Homo sapiens: one gene and its partners. The protein of the gene in region 3 interacts with the protein of the main gene of each other region in a pairwise test. Each region holds a gene or a part of one and is shown on either strand. Other genes may lie near its edges. The genes, in order: PPP3CA, PTPN20 and AATK.

Region 1 (3,654 bases), on a different chromosome or scaffold from region 3:
TTGTTTCTTATACTTTTAAAAAGTAAACAGAAAATGAAATCATATCTTTTATTCTCAATAATGTTACGTTTTAAACATAATCCAAATCTTAGAAATTTATTCTTAGATTTAGCAATGAGACTCTAAGTAATTATCTGGCAAATAGCATTAGCACAAAGGCTCAAGCCTCTTACCATCAAATCCATCTTCTTCTGACCCTAGTTCATCATCTGAGCAGATGTTGAGGACATTTACCAGCATCTCAGTCACTAAAGAGAGAAAGCAAAGAAAGAAAAGTCAGGGTTTTCTGTTATAACCTTAACTATTACTCTGGCATTGTTAATGAGCAAACTTAGCAATAACATTTCTTATTTAGTTTGTATATAGAAGCAGTTTCAGTAAACATCCAGATCATAAAAGACAGCCTTTGTGATTCTATGCAGACTTTATGAAACTATTAGCTGATGCTTATGATATCTAATGGTAACATTTACTAGCTCTAGGTCAATAGACAATGACAAATCAAATATGTGGATGTGAATATACTACAAATCAATGAAAGAGAAAATAGTTTTTTTGAATTTTTATTAGTCACACAATGATAAGGCTTAATCTAGATCAGATTACAAACTTCTGTTCAGTAGGGACTAAGAATGATGATTTTTCTTATATTTTTAATCACCTAGAGAACTTCACGCCATTATAGGCATGTGGTTTTGTGTTTAATACAAACTGTTGATTGATAAACTAATATATTTGAAGTATTTTTCAGAATACTAATTTTAAAAATGTATTGACAGAAATATCATTAAATTTGATTTTCAAAAATGCTTAAAAAATTAAACAGTTGCAGTTTAATCAGAAATTTACTTAATAGATTACAATAGGATTACATAAAAGTGTTGTACAGAGGAAATTAGTACTGCATTATTTTTATACTATAAACCATGCTATTTACATTTAATATTTTTTGAAATTAGATTGGATTCTACCATGCATGTGAAAAGAAGCCTGTCTACTGCTTCTTTGAGAGCTACTTTTTAAAGTAATATGCTATTTAAAAAAATGTCCTTCTAGAATTGAAGATGAATGATAGAGAGTCAAACTTCAATAGAGCCAACACTGATCCAGAGTTTCAGTTTAATTATCAAAACTGGATTTTGTGTACCAATAGATTAATATGTTAATTTCTAATAAATGTCCCAAATTTTAATAATTAATAGAAACAACCCAAATAAAGGATGTTCAAAAGGTGCCCCATAGTTGTCAGCATCCACACTGCTTCTGTTTCCAGCGAAGCCAACAGATGACACTACTCCAATTTGATCAGTGCAAGAAAGTTGCAATATGGAGTAGTATTGGGAATATTTATCAGAGATTATTAAAAATTTACTTTTGATTATTTTGATATTCAAAGGGAAGGCTTCTTTGCCAACAACTCATAACTTGACTGGTTTAATCATTTTAGGGCATTTAAAGGGAAAACAACCATTAGGGTTTCAGAAAAATATTTAGCTTTTCTCTGATACTCCTCATAGAACATCATTACTCTGATACTTATAGGAACATTTATTTTTCTTACAATGCCCATTCACCTTCTCATGGAAAGTATGAGAAGATACATGAGAATCAATCCGTGTATCACTGTTAGGCCTCCTGAATGAAAAACAATTGGTGCAGACATTTCCCCAAAATTTTTGTTGGGGTTTAAGTCAACATATGAAAGCAAAACAAAGGAGGAAAGAAGGAAGGTAGGAAGAAAGTTAACAAATAACTTTCTAAAATGTAAATTTGTCTCCTGTTCTGTACCTTATAATGCGCTAATGCCTACATTATTGATGAACTACTTTGCTGTTGTACATGTTGTTCTTCAAAATATTGTAGCCATTAAGCACTATCGTACAATAATTTATTAACATCAGAAATGTAAGGAGAGCATGGCTATCCTAATCTTTTAATTTGGCAGATAATTTGTAAAATTAAATAGTCCTTTGGGATTATAGTACAAATGGGTAAGGAAAAAGGGTAGACATTACTTGAAACCAGGTAAACCTGTATTTCCATTATTTTTTAAAGCGTTATATTATTCTAATAAGATTGTAAAAATTTCCTAAATATTCCTGTGTTTTGTTTTTTTTTTTGCTTCCCCCTCATTCACCAATTGTGTCCTGTTAATAGGATACAGAGTGACACACTGCCACTTCCAAATCACATCTTTCATTGTACAACTTGTGAATTTTATTGGCTGGGCCAAAGTTCTTCTCTTTCTGAGTGTTTAATCTCCTTTCCTTCCTTCCTAAACTATTTTAAGAAGAACATCTCAGGATTCCACAACATACCTTTTTCCCCAACAAATGGAAGGGACCAAGTAAAAACATCCATGAAATTTGGAAGCCAGTATGGATGAGGAGAACAGTTGAATTGCCTGATATTCATAACATTGTTCTCATACTTCAATACTGCAGCTAAAAATAACCAAAAGAGGATGTTAGGAACACAGAACATATTTCTGCTTCTATGTATGGCTTTAGCTCATCAAGAAAATTCAACCATTTGACTGAAGTTCCAAAACATCCAGGCTCACACCTTAGGCATCCCAGAATGCTTATACAACTTATGGACTTAAACCTTACTCAGGGTAATATATAACTGCACAATATATGAATAATTAATATGTAATTGTGTAACAAATTGGAAAATATTTACACAAAATAGTTAATCCAATGTCTGTCAGGAACTGATTCAAGCTCCCCTTTCAGCCAAGAATACTTTGGTCTTAAAATTTGATATCTGATGACACTAATAAAAGTGGCACAGCTAAGTTTGACATAATAATCTCCTCAAATATTTGAATGAATTTATTTTTAAAAAGTAAAACTTCAATAGAACTCCCAACAGTTGTACAAAATAGTTTAAGTTAGATTGCTTTAATTTTTACTTTATTTTTTAAATTAATATAATAATTGTACATAATTATGGGGTGCATAGTGATGTTTTGACACATATAATGCACAGTAATCAGATCAGGGTAATTAGCTATACATTAAATACCATATCAAACATTTATCATTTAGTTGTATTTGGAACATTCAATATTCTCCTTCCAGCTATTTGAAATTATAATCTATTATCGTTAACTATAGTTACCCTATAGTAGACTGCTTTCTTGACTTAATAAAATAAAATGTTTGGATTGAATCCCACATAAAATAATGTGCTTCTATCTGACTCTATCCTTGATTTCTGAAAAAGATGTCCATCCATGACTCAGGAAGACAAATCTGCATGCTTCATGTCTCTGTGAGTACTTTCAATAAAGGAAAAGTCACCTGTTTTAATGAGGTCACCTATTCTATGGATAGACAATTTGAAGTTGCAGGAAATTCTCAGGTTGCATTTAAACCTGCCTTTACCAGTCACTGATCATGGTTTTGCTATGCATTTCATATTTAATATTTAATGTCATTCTGCTTCTGAATGACAGCCTTTTAAATATTAAATATGATACTCAAGCATACCTTCTTAGGCTTTGGCAAGATTTCATTTTTATTATCTATTCAGGGCATAATTTGTATTACATTAGAAGACAGTAACCAACAGATTTTATATGATATCATATGATCTTTTCTTGCTTATGTTATGGGGTTGAAAATACAGAAAAAGTAATCATTTCTT
Region 2 (3,654 bases), on a different chromosome or scaffold from region 3:
TGTGGAGAAAGCCTGAAAATCTATACATTTTCAAAGCTCTTGGGTAACTCTTGTGTAGCCAACCTAGCAACCGCTGCCATGGGGAACAAGGAGCCTGTGAAGGTTTTAAGTAGTACAATAAAATGATCAAGTCTTTCTGAAAATCAATTTTAAAATTAATCTGGAAAAAATTCTGTAGGAAGAATGAGAAAAAATTCATTTATGAATGAATAATGATGGCAGATGAGTCTCATTAGATGTTAAAAGATAATATGAAGCTATGCTAATTAACAGAACAATACCAATAAAGGAATAAGAAAATCAGTAGAAAAAGTCCAAGAATAAATTAAAATATATGTAAGGCTCTAGTATATGATAAAAGTGGCATTTTACCTCACTCAAGAGAAATTCCAGGAGAGTCTTGGGACAACTGGATAGTTATATAATGCTGAGTCCCTATCAAACATCTTATACCAAATTAAATTCTAGCTGCATCAAAGATTTAAATGCTTAAAAATCATAAAGGTACTAGAAAAAAACATGAAGTAATTATTACAATCCTAGAGTAAAAGAAGCATTCCTAAAGAGCACAGAAAGCCCCAAACCCAGAAGCCCCAAAAGCAAAGATTGCCATATTTGACCACTAAAAATCAGCTATTTCTTCATGGTAAATAGGCATGTGTGTGCACATGCATGTGCACCTGTGTGTAACACAAACAACAGCAGAAAAAATACTACGTGTAAGACACACAAAGGCATAATTTTTTCCTTAAAGAGTTAGTAATCGGCCAGGCGCGGTGGCTCACGCCTGTAATCCCAGCACTTTGGGAGGCCAAGGTGGGCTGATCACCTTAGGTCAGGAGTTTGAGAGCAGCCCTGGCCAACATGGTGAAACCCTGTCTCTACTAAAAATACAAAAATTAGCCAGGTATGGTGGCAGGCACCTGTAATCCCAGCTACTCGGGAGGCTGAGGCAGGAGAATCGCTTGAACCTGGGAGGCGGAGGTTGCAGTGAGCCGAGATCGCACCACTGCACTCCAGCCTGGGGGACAAGAGCAAGACTCATCTCAAAAAAAAAAAGAGTAACCAATAAGAAAAAAAAAAAAAGGAAAATGGGGCAAAGAATTGAAACTAGCAGTTCACTGAAAATATAAAAGGCTTAAAAACATATGGAAAGATATTCTTTTGTTCTCAAATAAATACCAATTAAGTAATCAATAAGAAATAATTTGTCATTTAAGAGATGAGAAAAGATCCAAAAAATTGATAGCCCAAAATATTAATATTGTCTTTCTAGGAATTTGTTCAAAAAATATTTAAATATATGCATACAGTATATGAAGAGAGATGACCGCTGTTCATAATAGCAAAGACTAGAACAACCTAAATGTCCAAATGTTCCATGGTAGTTAATTATATGGATAAGTACCCTAATTTCAGAAATTAAATATTAAATAAATTAAGGTACTTATCCATATAATTACCATGCAACACTTAAAAAAATGAGATACTGCTATACATGCTGATAATATACTTGGAAATTGTATCTAGGAGGAAAACAAATTTAAGGATGTAAAGTGCATTCCAACAAATTTTTTTAAAAGTTTGCATGACAAAATGACAAAATGAATAGTGTAAAGGGGCCCTAGAAAGTCTTGAGAGAAAGAGAGAGACTTTCTATTTTATATCCTTTTATGCTATTTGGCTTTTTTTTTAACCACGTACATCTATTACTTTAAAATATATATAACATTTAAAAGTAAAAACAATGTACTAAAACCAAATAAAGAAAGAAAAGAAAAGAAACCCTCTGGCAATGATATAAAAAAAGAAATCACATATAGACTTTCGTTAAGAAAATATTTACCATAAATTCCTGCATGATATCATACGCTGCTGTTTTTTCCTCAAGGATTTTCAAACAATCCTTGATGGCTGTCTGCTCATGAAAATTGAATATTAATGGCCGAATCTGAGCCAACTGATCTAGTTCTCCTTCAGAAACAATTTTGCGCGTATCTAAGGAAGAGAAAAATTCACATATGTAAGTTACTGGTATATATGTGAAGGGAGATTTTATTTTTGTTTCTGTTTCTCTTAAAGACACAGCCATTTAAGGGTAAACAGAAGTTTATTTTTCCACGGGTGAAGAGTCTACTACTTTGAAAGAGGCTTCCTTTGGAAAAATCATGGCTATTTACACCTTGAAATTATACAAAATCCACTGCCCTTGGAGAAAACTGTTCAGTGCCATAAACATAACGAATGCTGTGGATTGAGAAGTGTTCAGTTTTATAATGTGAATTGGGTATATGGATTGAAAATTATGCCAAGGCAAGAACGTACAAGGCTTGGATTAGGAAAGAGAACTTTTGCCCTCCCTGGGACCAAGTGTTTGGAAGTTCCTAGAGTCTGAGATGTGGTGATGTGGAGAGTTCACGTCCTGTTTCATTACTCTGAAACAGATTGAACATGAACGCACACACGTGCACACACACCAAGGATGGAGAGGATCTATGCAATATAATTAATAAGATGGAATAATGGATACATATGGACACTTGCAACCAATAATTGGGGAGAACATTCTATTAATATTTAATAGCACACATACAATCTTTTTATTTTTAATTATGATCTTTTAGGTAATGTTGACAGTCAAGGTTCCAAACATCTGAAATTTTATACATTATGTCCACTGGCCAAAATGCAATAAATCTAGAAGTCAACAGTAAAAGAGTATTTTAAAAGCTTCAAAATTTTGAGGTAAGATGTTCAAGTAAAACAAGTTCTCATAATCTCTTTGCAAAGCCAAATAATGTGAACAATAATCAAGTTAATACCAGCAAAAAGATATATACAAAACAATATAGCAAAAGAAAGAGGTGGAAATTTCTAAGAATCTGCACATTCCTGGGAAGCACATCTTATCTTGGTACTCCACTATATCCAGAGGCTCTTTGTAGGGTTGGAAGTGAGGGCTCTTGGTTGGGATAGACAGGCACAGAAATCCTAAAATTTCTCACAAATATCCCTAACCTTAGTATGAGAGGAGGTCTAAGCAGGCTGGAAGGGGAGATAAAATTCCCACAAGCGTAGAAGCCATTTTGATCATCTTTGATGCCCAACAGAAAAACCCTTAGATCTTCCCATTGTGTTCCACCTTTGCTAGTACAAAAGCTGGGAGAATGAAGAGAGAAAAAAATGAAAATGTAGAATGACTGTAACAAACACTGGTGTTGACTCCCCAACACCGATTCTACCCCTCTGGTTAGTTAAAGCCATTTGTGATCATTCCATAGTAAGATCCTTCCAGTGAATAATTCAGAAATAGGTAGGAGATTTGCGCCAACCATAGAAATAGGCTGGTCTTGTAAAAAAGAGAAGCAAACCTCTCTTCTACCCTCATCCCTCTGTACACACATAAACAAAGAAGTATAAGGACCTAATTATCATAGTCTGCCCTCTTATGGCCATAAAAGGAAAGAGTATAGCAAATGTGAAAAACATAAAGAAACTATGTTCTTGATGACATTAGCAACTGATCATATTGAACCTGGAATCCTTCCTATCTCTGGGCTTCCATTATGGTAGAAAATATATATATATCTTTATCATTAACATCATTCTGAATTTGGTCTCTTTTTCTTGTAGCCTGGTCCAAGAATTCCAATC
Region 3 (3,654 bases):
TATGTTATCATGTTACAATGTATGTTACTGTTACAATGTATGTTATCATGTTACAATGTATGTTACCATGTTACAATGTATGTTACTATGTTACAATGTATGTTACCATGTTACAATGTATGTTACTATGTTACAATGTATGTTACTATGGCCTGTGTTATTGTGTGAAGTGGCCTCTGAAGTTTTTATTTTTATTGAGTTTTTATGTTTTTCAAATAAATCCCTTTTCAAATGCAAATAAATGTTTTTTGTTTTGTTTTGTTTTTGAGACAGAGTCTTGCTCTGTCGCCCAGGCTGGAGTGCAGTGGTGCTTCTCGGCTCACTGCAAGCTCCGCCTCCCGGGTTCATGCCATTCTCCTGCCTCAGCCTCCCGAGGAGCTGGGACTACAGGCGCCAGCCACCACACCCGCCTAATTTTTTGTATTTTTAGTAGAAACAGGGTTTCACTATGTTGGCCAGGCTGGTCTCAAACTCCTGACCTGGTGATCCGCCTGCCTTGGCCTCCCAAAGTGCTGGGATTACAGGTGTGAGCCACCGCGCCCAGACTAAATGTCTTCTAAAGAATCTTTTAAATCATTTTTTTCCTGAATTCGGTTTTTGGAATTTTGACCTTTTGGGATTTCCACACTCAGGATGATGGCACTTGGGATTGTGTCTTTTGGGATTCAATCAGCTCCTGCTACAGAGAGCCCAGTCCAGCAGACCCCTCCTCGGCCCTGATCGCCAGTCAGGCACGAAACTGAGGACCCCCTCCCCAACTCAGAAGCAGGGCCCTGGGCGGGGTACGGCAAGACCCCACAGGCCTCCCGACACAGGGGAGAGAGGGCAGGAGGAGCCTCTGGGACAGCAACGGTGCCCCCACAGGCCCTGGTGGCGGCATCGTGCCCAGCCCTGAACCATCCCCACAGTCACTCCCGAGACCAGACAGATGTGGGCACCATCTGCCGCGTGGGATTCTGGGTGGCAGGTGAGGACAGGGCAGGGGCTGTAAGTCACAAGACACCGCCCCCGCCAAGAGAGGGGAGCCCGAATGTCCACGGATAAGGAGGATGCAGGCCAGCCACGGTTATTTTTAGGAGAGGCCACATAAAATGTAAGCTTCCGGGACAAGCCCAGGACATGGCAAGGTCCACGGGCCCGGGCCGGGTCCATCCGACACCGCGGGCACCGCACCAGCCCATGCACACGCTCGCCTCCAACCTGGGGCTGCACTTGCTCATAGACGCACACGTACCCCTCCACGCACATGCCTGCCGCACACGCTGGCAGCCCCAAGGTGGGCATCCGGCCCTCCCCCAGTGCTAGGACCAGCCCTACTCTCTGCTGCAGGGAACCCCCGCACAGTTCCCGGGGGTTACCACCCCAGCATCTCTAAGTCCGCCTCTCCTGCCCCTCGACAGCCAACCCTGCAATCAAACATGGGTGCCCAGCCCAGGCCAGCCCAGGGACGGAAGTGAGTTCCACCAGCTGGACACTCACAAGGAATGTCCCCTCTGTTGACACAACACACAGCCCAGGCCCAGCCTGCATCAGCATCAGATGCCCCAGGGCCTACCCCAAGGCTGGTCCAAGGGTGGGAAGGGCACCTGGAATGCCCCCGGTTCCCCAGGAGGCTGATCCCTGACAGTGGAGAAGCCTCCAAGGGGCAGGCAGCTCCAGCTAAGGTCCCACAGCCCCCATCTCTTCGCTCCTGGCCTGTCTCTGCTCGACGCACACTGTCCCCCAACACCTTGGCCCTCGGTCCCGCTCTTCGTGGGGGCCTACCCTCCTGTGCGTCTCAGGACCCCGGCCCTGACACAGCCGGGCATCCAGCTGGCCCCCTACAGACCTGCACGGACTGAGTCCCTCCCTCAGTGCTGGCTGGGCAGCAGCAGGGGGCTGCTGGGCTCAGGCTTGCCAAGGAGGAAACGGGCAGGTCCATGGCCAGGGCGGCCGGGCGTCGCGGATGCATGCCGGCCACGGGTATTTCTAGACAAGACTTGCAGGGCCGCCCGTCACAGAAGGAAAAATAAAACAGTCTGACGCGCTAGTTCAGGCTCCAGCAGCAGCCAAGCATCTCGCCAGACCCCGCGGCAGAGAGCAGGGCGGGGCCCAGCCTCCAGAGCCAGGGTCCGAGCAGGGTCCGTCCTCCCCGTCATTCATCCCTGGGGCCAGGAGCTGCTTTCAGGGACACCTGCCTCTGGGCCACAGAGATTCCAGGCAGCTTCCCAGGGAGAGAAGGTGCCTGAGCCTGGCGGTGTGCTGGTCAGTGTCTGCACCCAGCTCCCTGGGAAGGAAAGCGGGGCGTGTGCCGGCTCCTGCCGCAAGTGCTCTCACCTCGGCCCATTTCAGGGTGGAAGCTGCTGGTGCTCAGCCCTGCACAGGGTCACGGGAAGTGAAGCAGCAGGCCACCTGCTCACTGCGCACAGACCTGAGGCCTTGTGTCCAGGACCTGCCCACTGCCCCGAGCCTGGCTCCCACAGGCCAGCTGGCCAGGGCTGCCCGACACCAGGTACAAACCACCAAAAAATACCTCCAATGGGCACTCGCTTGAGGGGCTCAGAAGAGCTGGGCAGGACCTGGAAAGGCTCCTGACATCTTTCGCCACAGAAAGGCAGACAAGACCACCATGGGCAGCCCCCACATGCTCACGAGCCCGGGCGTTATAAAAACAGCAGCCAGCACTGGCGGGAGGGGAAGCCATGGAGGCGTTCGTCCATGGGGATGGGGGCAAAATGGCACCACCTCCTGGAAGCTCCCTGGACAGTGCCCCACAGTCACACACCAGCACCCCTGATCCCTGGGGCCGCTATACACACAGCGAAAACCTCAGGGCCCAAAGAGGACAAGGCCACAGGACCCTGCTTATGAGACAGACGTCCAGGCCAGGGGCCCAGAGACCGAGACAGATCGGTGGCTGCCAGGGCTGGGGGCAGGGGATGGGGAGTGATGCCCTCGGGCATGGGGCTTCTGTCAGGGGCAGGGATGCTCCACAGCTAGCCGTGCCATGGCTGCACTCTTGGGAATGCAGGAAAGCCCCAGCTGCTCATTTGACACAGGTGGGTCCTTGGTATGTGAGTTACCTCTCAGTAAAGGGGCCCTCACTCCAGCGTCCACGATAGCAGCCCACGGGACAGCCCACAACTGAGCATCATTCACAGAGAGCGAGCGAGATCCCCAACATGGGGCAGCTGGGAGGGCGCCGGCGGCCTGCGAGTGACCGGCCAGGTAGCAGTCCTGGGGGCAGTGGCGGGGACTCTCGGGGGCTGGGCGTGCTGCCGCGCGGGTAAATCCAATGCGGGGAAGCCCCGGACCCGCACCCCGGAGGTCAGAGCGCACTTGTGTGTGCCGTGGTCACTAGGAAGCCACACGCCTTTTTCGCAGGGGGTTCGAGGAAATTCCACGTGGGCCTCACAGCGGAGCCCAAACCCTAAGCAAGCCCCACCGGCTGCAGAATCCGCAGGACCAAGTACCAAGGGAACCCAAGGCCCCTTGTTCAGAGTCACTAAGAATTCCCAGAAGCAGAGCAGAAGGGAAGCCAGAGGGGCCCCACCGAGCACCAGGGCCTCGTCGGAGGATCCTCACACCGAGGACGGCATCCCCAGCTCCATCCCACAACGGCCTCAAGCCACAGCCTCAAACCGTGGCCTTGGCACAGAGGTGACTCGGCAGAGC

The links.
Region 1: the proteins of AATK (region 3) and PPP3CA interact in a two-hybrid assay, tested with the Homo sapiens proteins (one study listed by BioGRID and IntAct).
Region 2: the proteins of AATK (region 3) and PTPN20 interact in a two-hybrid assay, tested with the Homo sapiens proteins (one study listed by BioGRID).

The regions. Positions count from the first base shown.
Region 1 is NC_000004.12:101,060,914-101,064,567, forward strand, and holds part of PPP3CA (protein phosphatase 3 catalytic subunit alpha), read right to left. Parts: intron 2,445-3,654; coding exon 2,319-2,444; intron 249-2,318; coding exon 174-248; intron 1-173. UniProt on the Homo sapiens protein: Calcium-dependent, calmodulin-stimulated protein phosphatase which plays an essential role in the transduction of intracellular Ca(2+)-mediated signals. Many of the substrates contain a PxIxIT motif and/or a LxVP motif.
Region 2 is NC_000010.11:46,963,330-46,966,983, reverse strand, and holds part of PTPN20 (tyrosine-protein phosphatase non-receptor type 20), read right to left. Parts: intron 1,999-3,654; coding exon 1,847-1,998; intron 1-1,846. UniProt on the Homo sapiens protein: Tyrosine-protein phosphatase targeted to sites of actin polymerization in response of varied extracellular stimuli. Has tyrosine phosphatase activity towards various tyrosyl phosphorylated substrates.
Region 3 is NC_000017.11:81,156,151-81,159,804, forward strand, and holds part of AATK (serine/threonine-protein kinase LMTK1), read right to left. Parts: intron 1-3,654. UniProt on the Homo sapiens protein: May be involved in neuronal differentiation.